2 linked regions of the Homo sapiens genome follow. The protein of the gene in region 1 binds, or shares a complex with, the protein of each later gene. Each region holds a gene or a part of one and is shown in the gene's direction. Other genes may lie near its edges.

The links.
Region 2: the proteins of CCK (region 1) and CCKAR are in contact, whole or in part, in a cryo-EM structure (PDB 7MBX), measured with the Homo sapiens proteins. Residues at the interface, in NP_000720.1 of Homo sapiens: Asp96, Tyr97, Met98, Gly99, Trp100, Met101, Asp102, Phe103; in NP_000721.1 of Homo sapiens: Cys94, Phe97, Asn98, Pro101, Asn102, Lys105, Asp106, Phe107, Thr118, Met121, Gly122, Val125 (codon at 1,806), Tyr176 (codon at 1,959), Phe185 (codon at 1,986), Asn194 (codon at 2,013), Met195 (codon at 2,016), Cys196 (codon at 2,019), Arg197 (codon at 2,022), Phe198 (codon at 2,025), His210 (codon at 4,414), Leu213 (codon at 4,423), Leu217 (codon at 4,435), Ile329 (codon at 5,756), Phe330 (codon at 5,759), Ala332 (codon at 5,765), Asn333 (codon at 5,768), Arg336 (codon at 5,777), Ala343 (codon at 5,798), Glu344 (codon at 5,801), Leu347 (codon at 5,810).

The regions. Positions count from the first base shown.
Region 1 is NC_000003.12:42,262,985-42,270,908, reverse strand, and holds the start of CCK (cholecystokinin preproprotein), read left to right. Parts: upstream 1-4,723; 5' UTR 4,724-5,225; intron 5,226-5,471; 5' UTR 5,472-5,640; intron 5,641-6,001; 5' UTR 6,002-6,212; intron 6,213-6,961; exon of another isoform or gene 6,962-7,086; intron 7,087-7,276; 5' UTR 7,277-7,278; coding exon 7,279-7,492; intron 7,493-7,924. UniProt on the Homo sapiens protein: This peptide hormone induces gall bladder contraction and the release of pancreatic enzymes in the gut. Its function in the brain is not clear.
Region 2 is NC_000004.12:26,480,542-26,487,695, reverse strand, and holds the end of CCKAR (cholecystokinin receptor type A), read left to right. Parts: intron 1-1,797; coding exon 1,798-2,059; intron 2,060-4,412; coding exon 4,413-4,540; intron 4,541-5,525; coding exon 5,526-6,058; 3' UTR 6,059-6,300; downstream 6,301-7,154. UniProt on the Homo sapiens protein: Receptor for cholecystokinin. Mediates pancreatic growth and enzyme secretion, smooth muscle contraction of the gall bladder and stomach. Has a 1000-fold higher affinity for CCK rather than for gastrin.

The DNA.
Region 1 (7,924 bases):
GGTACTTGTTATAGCACCCTGAGTTGACAGTAACACAGCCACTATTGATTTCCCCTTCATGTTCCCTCTCATGTAGCTATTCCCACCTCAGCCATCTGCTTATCTCTTCTCTGCCTGAGGGCTTTCTCTGGCTCTGCAGGAGCAGGTAAGCCTATTTGGAAGTGAGAGGGAGCTAACACCTGCTGGAACAGCCCTCAACTAATGGGAAATGGGAGTTGGTGCTCCGGCTCTCCTTCTGGCCTCAAGTAGGCTGGCTATGAGCCATGTTCCAAGAGGTATCTCAGAGAGTCCCCAGGGGATTGGGTCCACAGCAGTCATCCACTGTACTCAATACTTCACTGTCTTCTCTCTTCCCTTCTCCCTTACTCCTGCTCCCTTGGAATCACTCTCAAATAAATTACCTGTAACCAGGTGCTGTCCCAGGCTCTGCTTTTGTAGGAACCCAAACTATGACAAGATATTCTAAAGAAATTCATCGTTAGGAAAAGGAAACACTTCACCATGACCATAGTTACTTCCCTTTTTTCAGTCTAATCATTCCAGATATTGGCAGATGATATTGGCTATGTGGACTTTGAAAAATTCCAGGACAAATAATAATATTTTAATACATGTTCAGGAAAAAAAAAGACCCAAAAAAGAAGCCTTCTAACCATCACGTTTCTGATCACAGCAAATAGCCTCCTGCCTTCTGGTAAGTGGGGCTTGCTTGTAACAAGCTTAAATTCTATGAATAATAAATCAGGAGGCTCTAGCATGTCCCTGGAAATTCCACTAAGTTTTCTACACATACAAAATTGACATATGTCTTTGAGCTAGGTCTCATGACTAAAAAAATCGTGTATTGAAAATATATCTGTTTCAGGAACTAATCTTCGGGGATACCTCCCCAACTCTGAGCAAGATCTTACTTAAATTCATTTCACCGCAATCAGATGGGAATTTCTAGACTCCAAACCAGTGAACAGTCACAGGTTTCCTCTCTCCACTATTTCCTTTCCAACGCGGCATCTGGATATGGCACCCTCCACTCTCAGTCCTCCAGATAAAGGCAGGGACCAGCTGGTGCGTCTCATTCCATGATGGGGAAGAGTGGGTGGTGGTGGGAAGGACACAGAGGGCACTGCCTTTTCCATTCCTTTTCTGAGACAAGAGAATGAGCTTGGCAGAAAAGTTAGTTACCGTCTCACATTTGATGAAATACAAAACAATCTCCAAACAGTGCGAACTCCCATACAACTTCCTTTTTCTCTATTTGGACTGAAAAGCAAAACCATTTCTCCATAATGTACATACATAGCAAGGTCTACACAGCAGACAGCCTAACAGGGCATCCCCCAGCAGTGGTTTGCATACGTTCATGCGGGTGCCCAGTCCTCCACAGACCCTCCCCCTACTCTACTTTTCTTGAAAACATGTGTGCACCTTCCATGCCTGCTGTGTATTTTTTAAATTGTCTGTCTCCTCCACTAGAATGGAAGCATCACAAGCACAGGGATTTTGTCTGTCTTGCTCACCACTGAATCCCAACAGTGCCCGAAAGACAGTTGGTGTCTTTGATAGGGTTATACTAAAATTAGACAGACTTGAGTACATGTCGTTTATTTGGGAGAGGAGGAAGAAATGAGAAGAGTAAGACAAAGAAGGAGGAAAAAACAACTAAAGAGATGTTATCAGCTGGGCTTGGTGGCTCACACTTGTAATCCCAACACTTTGGGAGACTGAGAAGGGAGGATTACTTGAGCCTAGGAATTTGAGACAAGCCTAGGCAACATGGTGAGACCCTGTCTCTACAAAAAATTAAAGTATTAGCAGAGTATGGTGGTGTGCACCTGTGTTCCCAGCTACTCAGGAGGCTGAAGTGGGAAGATTGTTTAAGCCAGGAAGCCGGGTTTGCACCACTGCACTCCAGCCTGGGTGACGGAGTAAGACCCTGTCTAAAGAGAGAGAGGGAGAGAGAGAGAGAAAAAAAAAAGAGAGAGAGAGCTGTTATCAAGTTCACCGATACAGGCAAAGGACCGTTGAGAAGTCTTTAGAAGCTTCCAGAAGGGTTCATACAGAGAGACTGGGGTTCCCATTCCCCACTGGCTGAAGATTGTCTTTCGGGGAGATAACACCCAAACTTACAGGCTGAACCTCTGCAAGGGCTGAACTTTGAAGGAGATAAGCCAAGAGGGGTGCTTTGAAAGCTTGAAGTGGGAATGCTGTCTGCTGAAAACTGCCCAGCCTGGCTAGGCTGCAGCTGAAGCCAGAGGGAGAACGTGGAACTGTGGTGAGGAGCACCAAAGGCATCTGCCTCAGGAGACATCAAGCCCATTTTTTTAAGTGAACAAATGGATTATCTTTAATGCGGATATGCATCTGGATTACAGGAATAGTGTCGGCTCCAGGCCTAACTTGCTTAGGAACCATAGTCAGAATAATTAGTACCTGTTGACCCTGTAAGAAGGAAAAATCATGACTATGGCCAAGGAGTTCAGATCCCTTATGTCTTTCTATTTTCCTAGCAGCTCTTCTATCACACATTTCCTGCTCAGAATTTCCACTCCTGAGAGACAAGCGGCTACAACTGCTTTATTTTACAATAAAGAGGCAAGCAGCTCTCTTGATCGTAAATGAGAAAGGCCCATGCACAAGCCCTTCTTCAGCTTCTGATGGTCCCTGTCACCTCTGGCTCTGCACTGGCATTTCCACGCTGGCCTCCTTGGCCCACTTGTCTGGTTCTGTACCAGCTCTTTTTCCTCCACCCACTCCTTCACGCTGTCACTCCTCAGCGGTCTGTCTAGAGGCACCCTGCCACCCATTGCTAGCTGCCTTCCTCAACTCTCCCTATAACTCCCAGGCTGGCAGCCACCACCCACATGCCAGACTCTGGGTCCACCCCTCCAGTGTCTCTCTGCTCAGGACAAAGGCTCCCAAACTCCTCCTAGACTGTCAATGCACAAACGATCAACCAATCCCATACTGGACTCATTACCCGCTCCCCACTGGCCCACTACCACCACGGCCACACTCCAAGCCTGCTTTTCCTTCTGAATTCCCTGTCTTGGATAATACTCTACCACCCACCCTTGTCTCCCAGCCTGGAAACTCAAGGTCAGTCTCAGTCACCAAGTCCGGTTCCCTCTACCAGTTTCCTGAGCAGCAACAGGTTGTTCCCTGGGAGGCTGGAATTTTTCTTCTTTTCTCTACTTTTGTTTTCTGAATGTTCTCTGATGAACACTTATGACTTGCATAATGTTTATTATGTTTCCTAATAATTAATGGGTTTCATAATGGCTTATTATTCTAAAACAAATCTACCTTGATTGTTCCTGCTTGCCCATCCCCGAGGGCCTCCTATCCAGCCCTCCCCTTCCAGTCCCTCTGCCTTTTGGGCATCTTCCATATTACCACCTAGCTCCCCTCACCAAAACATTTCTCCAAGATTACCTCCTACCATCTCCACTCCATAGTCCCCAAATATCAGAATTGTTGAGAAGTGTTTGTCCACTTGTTTGCTTCAGCTCCCCTATTGTATTGTCAGCTCTTGTTCATACTGAATCCCTGGGGCCTGGCACAAAGTAAGTGTTGAATAAACATGAATTAAATGGATCAAGGCCAGGAGTTGAGTAACTGGTATAAGGTAGGGAATTTCTATAGAAATGATCTCAAAGTGTGCTTGGCGGACTAGCATTTTCAGTATGGCCTGGGAACTTGTTAGAAATGTAGATTCTTGGTGGGGCGTGGTGGCTCACGCCTGTAGTCCCAGCATTTTGGGAGGCCAAGGTGGGTAGATCACCTGAGGTCAGAAGTTCGAGACCAACCTAGCCAACATGGTGAACCCTTGTCTCTACTAAAAATATAAAAATTAGCCAGGCATGGCTGCACATGCCTGTAATCCCAGCCGCTGGGGAGGCTGAGGCAGGAGAATCGTTTGAACCTGGGAGGCAGAGGTTGCAGTGAGCCGAGATCATGCCACTGTACTCCAGCCTGGGCGACAGAGTGAGACTCTGTCTCAAAGAAGGAAAGGCAAGGAAAGGAAGGAAGGAAGGAAGGAAGGAAGGAAGGAAGGAAGGAAGGAAGGAAGGAAATGAAGAAAGAAAGAAAGAAATAAAGAAGAAAGAAAGAAAGAGAGAGAGAAAGAGGGAAAGAGGGAGAAGGAGAGACGGAGGGAGGGAGGGGGGAAGGAAGGAAGGAAGGAGGGAGGGAAGGAAGGAAGGAAGGAAGGAAGGAAGGAAGGAAGGAAGGGAGAGAGGGAAAGAGGGAAGGGGAGAGAGGGAGGGAAGGAGGGAGGAAGGGAGGGAGGGAGGGAGGAAGGAAGGGAGGGAGGGAGGGAAGGAGGGAAGGAGGAAGAAAGGAAGGAAGGAAGGAAGGAAGGAAGGAAGGAAGGAAGGAAGGAATTCGGATTCTTGGGCCCTTCCTCAGACCTACTGAATTAGAAGCTCTGGGGGTATTTCGATAACAAGTTTATGTTTCCAGACATGTCTTGCCACAATCACAAATAAGACTCTTTTTCGCAACTGAACTACACAAACCTTAGCAGGCTCGTGGCGAAACCACTGGAAAGCATTTAATCAGCTTCAGCTCTTTCAAACATGTTGCCCATAGGTTGCAGAAACGCAGCTGCCTCTCAGGATTAGAAAGTGGAGCAGCAACCGGAGGCGTCTCTGGGCCGCCCCCCCAACCCCCCCACCCCGCCTCGCCCACTCCACCCTCACACTGGCGTTGCCACAGTCCCTCCATTCCAGAGGGAATTCCAGAGCGGAATACGGATTCCGATTTTAAAATAAGCGCTTCTAAATCTTTCTCCTTGCATCTAAGACGGGTGGGGGAAAGAAAGGGAGAGGAGTTGAGGTCCCAAGGTTCAAGGCCTGGTGATCTCCAGGTCCCAGGCTGGGCGGCCTCGGTGCACGGAGAGGGCGAGGGGCGTGTTGTGGAGCCTTGGCAAGGCGCTGCTCTTCCTCGCGCCTCGGTTTGCGGTCTGTGAAATGGGGTTGGCAGTGCCTTTGCAGGGACGCGGCGAACTCAAGCACCAGCAAGCGGACTCGAACTCAAAGGGTTTCAGGGTGTAGACGACCAGAGCGCACTGAGGGGCTCCAGGTCGGCCCGCTCCGGAGCCGGGAGAGTAACCGCGTGCAGGGAAAGGCGCACGGCAGCCTCGGTGCCTCCCTTCCCTCCACCGGACGGGTGACTGACTAGGGGTGAGGTCCTCACCTCCAGGCTGCGCAGCTGAGTTCTGGAAGGTACTGTCCTGGGGGTGTGAGTGTGTGGGCCCTCAGGAAAGGTGCGAGGGGCGGATGCCGTGGTCTACCCGAGCTTGCGGGGGTGCGGTGGTCAAGTTCCCCAGGACCCTCGCTGGCGCCGCTTGTCGACAACGGGGAACAGTGGGCGCCGCGGGTGGTGGTAACTTGGCCCGGGAAGAAAACACATCCCTTTCCCAAACCGGATTCCTCTGAGCAAAACCAGATGGTGTCATCCGCATTTTACAGCTGCGTCAAGAGAGGCCCAGGACACCAAGAGCCAGCTGTGGCCAGAGCCCTTTCACTGACCCAGAACACTGGCCCTCGGAAACCTGGAGAACTGCGAGGGCTTTTAATGCGGCTGAGAAGAAAGTGAAGACCCCGACTCCTCCTCTCTCCTTCGAAAGAGCCGACACAGGTATGAAGACCAGCGCCTCGGACGCTCCGGGGTAGGGGGCCGACGCCCCCTCCCTTTCAGAATCACGCCTTGCTGATGCTCAGTCCTGCCCAGTGTCCACCCCCCACCCCCGCCCCCAGTTTCCTTTCTAGCCCCTCCGGTCCCCAAAGCGAACTAAGCTAGCGGCAGCTTCTCCATCCCGGAGGAGACTCCAAACTCCTAGGTTTCCCACCTTGGAGAGTACTGCTCTGGAATGCGCAGGGGAGCGGCACCTGGAAAGGGTTGGGCGGAAGCTTCTCGGACCCAGAGGGGGCGGACACCCGGCACCGCGCGTGGGAGGGATTAACTCCACCCCACTAGACCACCTCCCCCTCTCTCCCAGGAGCCACTTCAACCGGTTGTCGCCCCAGTGGCCGCCCTCTGAGCACGTGTTACTGCCAGTCTGCGTCAGCGTTGGGTAAATACATGACTGGCCGACGCCGCCGGGTGGGGCTATTTAAGAGACAGCCGCCCGCTGGTCCTCCCTGAACTTGGCTCAGCTGCCGGGCTGCTCCGGTTGGAAACGCCAAGCCAGCTGCGTCCTAATCCAAAAGGTAGGTCCCTCGGTTCGTCAGCGGGGGATCCAAGTGTCGTGTGTCTTTGAAGGATGCTGTCTTCAGCTTTGTGCCCATTTCCATTATGCTTTTCTATTTTCTGTGTCTTCCCTCCGAGAGCTCGAAAGACATTTCTTGAAGTCAGAAATAACGGCTCTGGGTCTAAAAGTGAGGTCTGGGTGGGTAGAGCTGCTTTAGAGCCTTTCATACGCCAGCATCATTAAGGGATGAACTACCCATTCGCTAAGATTCGCATGCAGATTGAGTTTGCTAGCTGTTACACAGCGGTGCGGGGGACTTTGCAATCTTTTCTAATAAAATATTAGAGGGTTTTAAGATTTAAATTCATTTTCTAAATACTGCAGAAAATTTCGAGGCTTTACGGATAGAAACTTGAGGGTGTTTTATCCACTAGCGATCTAAAATGCACGGGGCTTTCGAAGCCTGAGCGCTGGGCACATATTTCTGATTTTAAAACCTGCCTATGTTCTGCGTAGTGGCTTATTGCCATTTCCCACGTACACTTTGAGAAAAACTTTATAAATACGGCTTTATTTATTGCTCCTACATTTTAAACTGTGCTTCTCTTTTTCATCATTTACTGTATTTCCATATTGAAAGCTTGTTAGCTATCTGGAAAAGTGCTTTCCCCAGGGTTCTCATTTCTCCCACGGAGTCTTCCCTTTAGGATATTTTTTTCACACTATTTTTAATCTCGTGGGGTTTTATTTTTCTTCTTTCGGTTAGAAGAGAGGCACTCTGCAAACACTTCCTCAAACTTTAGGAAAGCAAAAACATTCCTTCTGCTCAACACGGCAGAAAACAGGGTCTCTGCCCCTTGGCGCTGGGTGAGGAGTTCCCAAAGACCAGCCAGGTGCGCCCGGGGGCGCGCGCCATGGCACTCGGCTGGGGTCAGCGCTTGGCGAGCCCTCGTGCTTGCGGCGGCCTGGCGGGTCTGGAGCACCTGTGTTTGTCCTAAGCCCGCTTCTGGGTGCCCGGCCCGCCGCAGGAGCTCTGTTGCCCAGCCTTTCAGTTAACGCGCCCTCCTCCTTTGCTCGCTACAGCCATGAACAGCGGCGTGTGCCTGTGCGTGCTGATGGCGGTACTGGCGGCTGGCGCCCTGACGCAGCCGGTGCCTCCCGCAGATCCCGCGGGCTCCGGGCTGCAGCGGGCAGAGGAGGCGCCCCGTAGGCAGCTGAGGGTATCGCAGAGAACGGATGGCGAGTCCCGAGCGCACCTGGGCGCCCTGCTGGCAAGATACATCCAGCAGGCCCGGAAAGGTAAGAATGCTGCCTCCCCATCCCTCACTTCTGCCCTTGTTCCCAGGCTCCCGATGCTGACCCTCTTCTCTAGCGCTAGCCTGATGGGGATGACCTCTCTCGGTAGGAAACAAGCAACATGATTTCTGGCGGTCCTTTGTAGCAATCTGAGAAGGGGTATGGAGGACTTAATTTATAAGTAAGGGGAACCTTCTTGAAAAGCTTTCTTTGAACTAATTTTTAGCAGTGTTGCTGATTAAGTTCAACACCATTTTACCAAGCCATTAAAAGATAATTATTGAAGCCTAGGAAAGGGTTCCTAGATACAGTGAATACCCTCTACTGAAAACGCAAAGGACCTTGGAGCCACCCAGATACCAACCCTTGGAAATCCTCTAGCAGGAAGGGGTCAATGCTGAGAATGCCTGAGATCTGGCTACAACAGTTTAAAAA
Region 2 (7,154 bases), on another chromosome or scaffold:
TGTAAATTTCAACTGCATAAAAAATATTTTATTGGGCAAAAGAAAAGCAACATCATTCTGAAAGTATTTGCAATACCATAATAATTTTGTTGGATTTTTAATTCCAATAATTTAGGCTCTTCTCTTAATTTTGCAGTCTCCTCAATACTAATAATTAACATTCATTAGCTCCTAATTTGTAGCAAAAAGAAAAAGAATGCTTGCCTGCCAGTGAGTTTATAGTTATTGATGATCCATTATGCAGAACTGAGTCTTAGAGATTTTTGGGCCGTACTCTTCACTCTAAATGTCATCAACTCTTTAGAGTAAAATCCAGTAAAACACAGCAAATCCTATCCCCAGAACATGAGTTTTTAGTTAATGGTTTGGGGGTCATAGACTTTTTTAAGACTCTAAGGAAAGCTAGAGCTAGGCTCCCTAGAAAAATGACATTTTTGGATATAGTTTCAGAGAATTAGTTTATATCCATAAGAATAAGGAGAATCTAAGGACCCCAGTTTCAGGACCTCTGCTCCCAAATTTATATTAATTCTGAGGTTTAAGAAATCTTGGTAAGAGATATTCAGAAGAATTGACAGAATTTATAGCAGAAGGACTCTACAGGGAATTTTAAGGGAATAATAGGACATTTTAATAAGTATGCATATACAAATACAAAAATAATGGAAGTTAAGCTTTTTGGGCAATGCCGAAGCACATGATTTTGTTCATTTTTTATTTTAATTTTTTTTCCATAGGCCATCTAAGACCAAGAAGTACATGATTTATTTTATTTTATTTTTGAGATGGAGTGCCGCTCTGTCGCCCAGGCTGGGGTGCAGTGGTGCGATCTTGGCTCACTACAACCTTGGCCTCCCAGATTCCAGCGATTCTTCTGCCTCAGCCTTCCAAGTACCTGGGATTACAGGCACGTGCAGCCATGCCTGGTTAATTTTTGTATTTGTAGTAGAGATGGGGTTTCACCATGTTGGCCAGGCTGGTCTCAAGCTCCTGACCTCAAGTGATCTGCCTGCCTCGGACTCCCAAAGCGTTGGTATTACAGGCATCAGCCACTGCACCCAGCCAAGAAATACATGATTTTAAATGAGGTGCATTTAATATCTTCCTCACTGTAATGGTGATGCTTGCTCATTCTACAAAATACAGAAAAACAAAAACAATAAGACAAGAGACTTTAGTCCCCAACCCAGAGAAACCTTTAGTTACTGTATGGGGCATTTTCCCTCGTCTTTTTTACTACTTATTTTTTCAACAAGCTGCATTTTGAAATATAGATTGTTTCACTATTAAGAACAGTATGTACTCAAAATTTTTAGAAAAAACCTTCATGCCTCCGGCTCACATCACAGTGACCTTTCAGGGTCACAGAGCCCTTGAGAATCTCGGGTTTTAAAAATCATTTTAACTATGCAGACGATACTCAAAATTACAGCTTTTCTTCAGATTTTAGAGAAACCTCTTCTGTGGGGGCAAGAATGAATTTCATCCCCTTGGTTATTAATTAATGAGCACCTTGAGCCTAAGCAGGTGTTAGGTGATAATCAAAGCTCAATAAACTTATTAAAAATTGGCAATGAGATATATTTACAAAGCCATTTCTTTAACTGCCTTAAACCCTTTCTGGAACAAAGCTGAGAATAAATCATCTTTTAAAAATATACATACACAATATTTCTTTACCTTCCAAGCGTTTTCCTTTGATATCAAACCTGTGCAGATCAGATATATTCAAGCTAATGTGCAAATAAACTTTGGATTTCAGAGTCAACATAACCGGCTTCTTTGTTCCTTTCCCAGGCACCTCTGTGAGTGTATCTACCTTTAATCTGGTAGCCATATCTCTAGAGAGATATGGTGCGATTTGCAAACCCTTACAGTCCCGGGTCTGGCAGACAAAATCCCATGCTTTGAAGGTGATTGCTGCTACCTGGTGCCTTTCCTTTACCATCATGACTCCGTACCCCATTTATAGCAACTTGGTGCCTTTTACCAAAAATAACAACCAGACCGCGAATATGTGCCGCTTTCTACTGCCAAATGATGTTATGCAGCAGTCCTGGTAAGGTTGCATTGTTTATTTTTAAAAATACAGCTTGATGTAATTTTGCAATATCATGAAAAACTGAGATGCCTTGCCCAGAGTGGTTGGGGGATCAGTTTCCTGGAGACGTTTTGAGAAGGTCTTTCTAGCCTCGTTCTAGGATAATCACGATAGCAAACACTTAGCTGGCGAGCTCTGTTTTAAATGCCATGCATATATTCATTCAATCAATCCTCTGAAAACACTCTAAGATAGGTATTATTATTATTGTGTCCGTTTTGCTGTTGAGGAAACTGAGACTTGGAAAGGTTAAGTTTCCCAATTCACAAACTTAAGGAAGAGGCAGAGGCTCTGTGCTTAATCATTATGCAGTATGCTTCTAAATGCTGTAGTGGAGGGTTAGGCTGATTAATTGTAGAGCTATGATTTTCTTTCTTTTTCTTTCTTTTTTTTTTTTTTTGAGACGGAATTTTGCTCTTGTTGCCCAGGCTGGAGTGCAATGGTGTGACCTCGGCTCACCACAACCTCGACCTCCCGGGTTCAAGCAATTCTCCTGCCTCAGCCTCCTGAGTAGCTGGGATTACAGGCATGCACCACCATGCCCGGCTAATTTTTTTGCATTTTTATTAGAGGTGGGGTTTCTCCATGTTGGTCAGGCTGGTTTCGAACTCCTGACCTCAGGTTATCCACCCGCCTCGACCTCCCAAAGTACTGGGATTACAGGCATGAGCCACCGCGCCCGGCCTTCTTTTATTTAATAAAATCTTTACTTTAAAATAGAGATTGGGTCTCACTATATTGCCTAGGCTGGTCTTGAATTCTTAGGCTCAAGTGATCCTCCCGCCTTGGCCTCCCAAAGTGCTGGAATTACAGGCATGAGCCACTGCAGCTGGCAATGATTTTCTAAAGAATTAAGACAGAGCAGGGAATGAGTCCCAAATCCCACATGGTTTTTCTTAGAGCTGCAGCAGCTCCGGTACTTACCCAGAGCATTTTACCAGAAATAAAAACGCAAGTTTCTAATACTGGTTCCTTTGCTTACTAACTGCACACCTTAGGCAAATTCACATAAGCTCTCTGAACGTCAGGTTCCTTATCTCTATAAGGAGTTAACAATGTGGATATTTTAAAAATCTACCTCATTGGGTGGCTGTAAGATACCAAGGAGAGTATGTTCATAAAAATGTCATTATAAAAAAGGCTACACAAATTGCAGGGTATTATATTTACCAATTGCAGGGATGTTTTAGAAGCAGGGAACTAGACATTGAGTAACAGCCCCAAACTGAGATCATCTCTGCTTTTTTTGCTTTCCTCCTTTCATTTCAACCAAGTAGCACACACACAAAGGAATTACGTTGCAAATGAGAGGAATATTTCCAAGGCTTGAAAAGGAATCTTATCAAAACATGTCAAATTGAAGTGAGAAATGGCCCAGCCACCATGAGCCTCTGACAATTTTATGGCCTAATCGTGTAACCTCACACATGCCAGACTGCAGAAGTGATTTAGGGGCCAGACTCATAAAGAAGGAGGCTGTGATTCTTCAGTAATCAAAGATGTTTAGAAAAAGCATAGCTCTACCCAACCAGGCACTAGAATGATGATGCCACTATGCTAGCCTCACAGGGTCATGGAGAATGGACGCCCACGTAAATGTTTGAGCTGCTTATGGGTTGGAAACAGCCAGAATGGCATGTTTTGTAAGACCCAGAAGGTTTTCCATTGTCCCCACCTAAGCATTTGATTACTCTGTTGTTTGGCAAATGGTATACCGTGATGCTTAAAAGCATAGCTTCTAGGTTCTGGAATCATATTTTGGGGGTTCAAATTCCACCTCTGCTACCAGCTGTGTGACTTTGGACAAATTATTTAATCTCTTTAAGTCTCAGTTTCCTCCTCTCTGCTGTAGGTATTAAGACAATAGCACCTACCTCAATGGTTATTATGAGAGTTAAATGTAGTGATGTATGTAAAATGCTTAGCCTATATGTAGCACATAGAAATCCTCGATGTATGTAAGTAATTTTTAAGGGTTTTTAAAACAGCTTTATTGAAATGCTATTCACATACTCTTATTTTTTAAAGCTTACATTCTTTTTCATACATAGACTTCTTTCAAGCACAGAATTACGCCAAACTTTTCCAATTAAACTAGTCCTTCATCAGAGACTTCATCTAAAAAAAGAAAAGAAGTAAACAACTTATAATGACTGAATCTCCAGACATGAAGTTGCCAAGGATATTAAATACTAGTAATTAATGTGTTTGCTCAGGCCAGTAAAAATAAACATAAACCCTATTCATTCCTTCCCATTTGAGTTTGAAGGTCTAAAGTTGCTGGTTATTGGATTTCTTTTGATTTCATTAGGCACACATTCCTGTTACTCATCCTCTTTCTTATTCCTGGAATTGTGATGATGGTGGCATATGGATTAATCTCTTTGGAACTCTACCAGGGAATAAAATTTGAGGCTAGCCAGAAGAAGTCTGCTAAAGGTAACTATCTTGTAGCTGTGTGTTTATGCCAAATGAGCACAAAAGCTTGTTTTCTATCATTTAAATAGATATACCCAGAGTGTACGTAAAGTTTGTTGGAAAAGCTTTTAAGTATTCTTATGAGATTCTGTGTCAAGAAGCACAGTCACGGGCCCAGTATTTCATTTTCTTATCTGTAAAATGGGGAAATCATTCCTTTCAAAAGCATTCTGAGTGGAATAAAGTAACCCACATATAACCCAATAACAAGCCAAGGCCTTTTCTGTGCCAGCTGTTCTGTAGTGCTGTATTCAAACAGACCCCTTTCCATAACCAGAGCTACTTGTAATTCCAGCCTGTTTTGTGTCTCTCCAAAGGTACTGGAGGGGATTTGATTCCTAACCCACAGCCGGCTTTTTGTTGTCTCCTCCTCATCCTCTCTCCTTTTTATTTTCACCCTGCAGTGGCCACAAAGCCTCATTCCTTCTCCATTCATTACAATCCACTGTCCATGAAAATTGACCTTGACACCCTTGTTGACATAGCTTTTCCCTTCTCACTCCATGCCCTAACTCAGCTGTCTACTACACAGATAACTGAGTCTCTCTAGCTTCTTTGGTTTTCATGGGATTTTTTCTTCTTATCCAGATTCCTCATCATAAAAGCAATCTGGAATCTTACCCAGCAAGCAGGAACCTTCCCTCTGGGGAGCTAATGAAGGAAAGGAGAAGAGTGTGAATATTCATTCTTTAATAATTTTTTTCTTGTAACCTACATCCATAAGATGTTGTTTTTATTATATATTTTATTCATTTTAAGCAGCATTTCATTGAAGGGAAGAACTAGTATAGATCAATGCTTACCCATATCAGTGTAAGGCCAGGTTGTCTGCCATTTCTCAGTTCCTGTTTGGTTTGGACTTCTTGATGGAGGGGAGTGGGGGCTCCATGCCTTCTACCGGGCATGACCCATCCCCAGCAATGAGTGATGTCTCTTGCCCACCCAGAAAGGAAACCTAGCACCACCAGCAGCGGCAAATATGAGGACAGCGATGGGTGTTACCTGCAAAAGACCAGGCCCCCGAGGAAGCTGGAGCTCCGGCAGCTGTCCACCGGCAGCAGCAGCAGGGCCAACCGCATCCGGAGTAACAGCTCCGCAGCCAACCTGATGGCCAAGAAAAGGGTGATCCGCATGCTCATCGTCATCGTGGTCCTCTTCTTCCTGTGCTGGATGCCCATCTTCAGCGCCAACGCCTGGCGGGCCTACGACACCGCCTCCGCAGAGCGCCGCCTCTCAGGAACCCCCATTTCCTTCATCCTCCTCCTGTCCTACACCTCCTCCTGCGTCAACCCCATCATCTACTGCTTCATGAACAAACGCTTCCGCCTCGGCTTCATGGCCACCTTCCCCTGCTGCCCCAATCCTGGTCCCCCAGGGGCGAGGGGAGAGGTGGGGGAGGAGGAGGAAGGCGGGACCACAGGAGCCTCTCTGTCCAGGTTCTCGTACAGCCATATGAGTGCCTCGGTGCCACCCCAGTGAGATGTCCCCTGACCCTCCACCGCAGAAGGAAGGCAGGGAGGAGGCAGAGAAGAAAGAACGGAAGAAGAGATCAGGAAGAGAAGGAGCAGAGCTGATGGAGAAGGAAGGCTCCATCTCCAGTGGGAACTCTTCAAGGTCTGCTTTTCATCCTTCATCTGGATTCCAGAGCACTGCTCCAGTGGGGCCATGATTGGTTTCTAGGCAGTTCAAAGCAGGATATGTTAAGTAACACTCACCATCAGAAAATCCTCAGCAGGCCAGGGACGGGAGTCCAGCAGGGCTCATACTGCAAATGGAGTTGCCAGCACATGTTCAAAACGGAGATGTGGGGCCTACTGAGCTTTCAAACCTTCTAGAACATCCAAGGTGGGCTCTCACTCCTCCTGTGACACATTTCCATGCTCTGCTTTTTCTGCTCATGCAGAATTGTGGCGGTTGCTCTGCCTGCAGGGAGCCCATCACCCTATCATGTATCCGCTGTAGCCTTCCACCTCATTGTGACCACAAAGGGAACAGGAAGCAAACCCTCTCTGGCCATTTTGTCCTGGGTACGACAGCAGCCTGATTTCTTCATCTTCAGGTTGGCCAAGAACATTCGGAGTCATAAGCTAGTTGTCATCAGAATAGCATAAGCAATGTCTGAAAGATGGAAGTTTGAACTTAATACTTACTTCTTTTCTTTTCTTTTTTTTTTTTTTTTTTTTTTTTTTTTTGAGACTGGGTCTGGCTCTGTCACCCAGGCTGAAATGCAGTGGTGCCATCTCAGCTTATTGCAAACTCTGCCTCCTGGGCTCAGGTGATCCTCCCACCTCAGCCTCCATAGTAGCTGGGATTACAGGCATGTGCTACCATCTGGCTAGCTGTTTGTTTGTTTGTAGTTTGTTTTGTAAAGATGGGGTTTCACTATGTTGCCCAGGCTGGTCTCAAACTCCTGGGCTCAAGTGATCCTCCCACCTTGGCCTCCCAAAGTGCTGGGATTATAGGCAAGACCCACCACACCCAGCCTTGAATTTAGCATTTCTAAAGAGAAAAGAGTACAAGGCAAATAGCTGGATGGAATGCTATCTTACTTTAAGGAATGTTAAGTGGCAGAAGG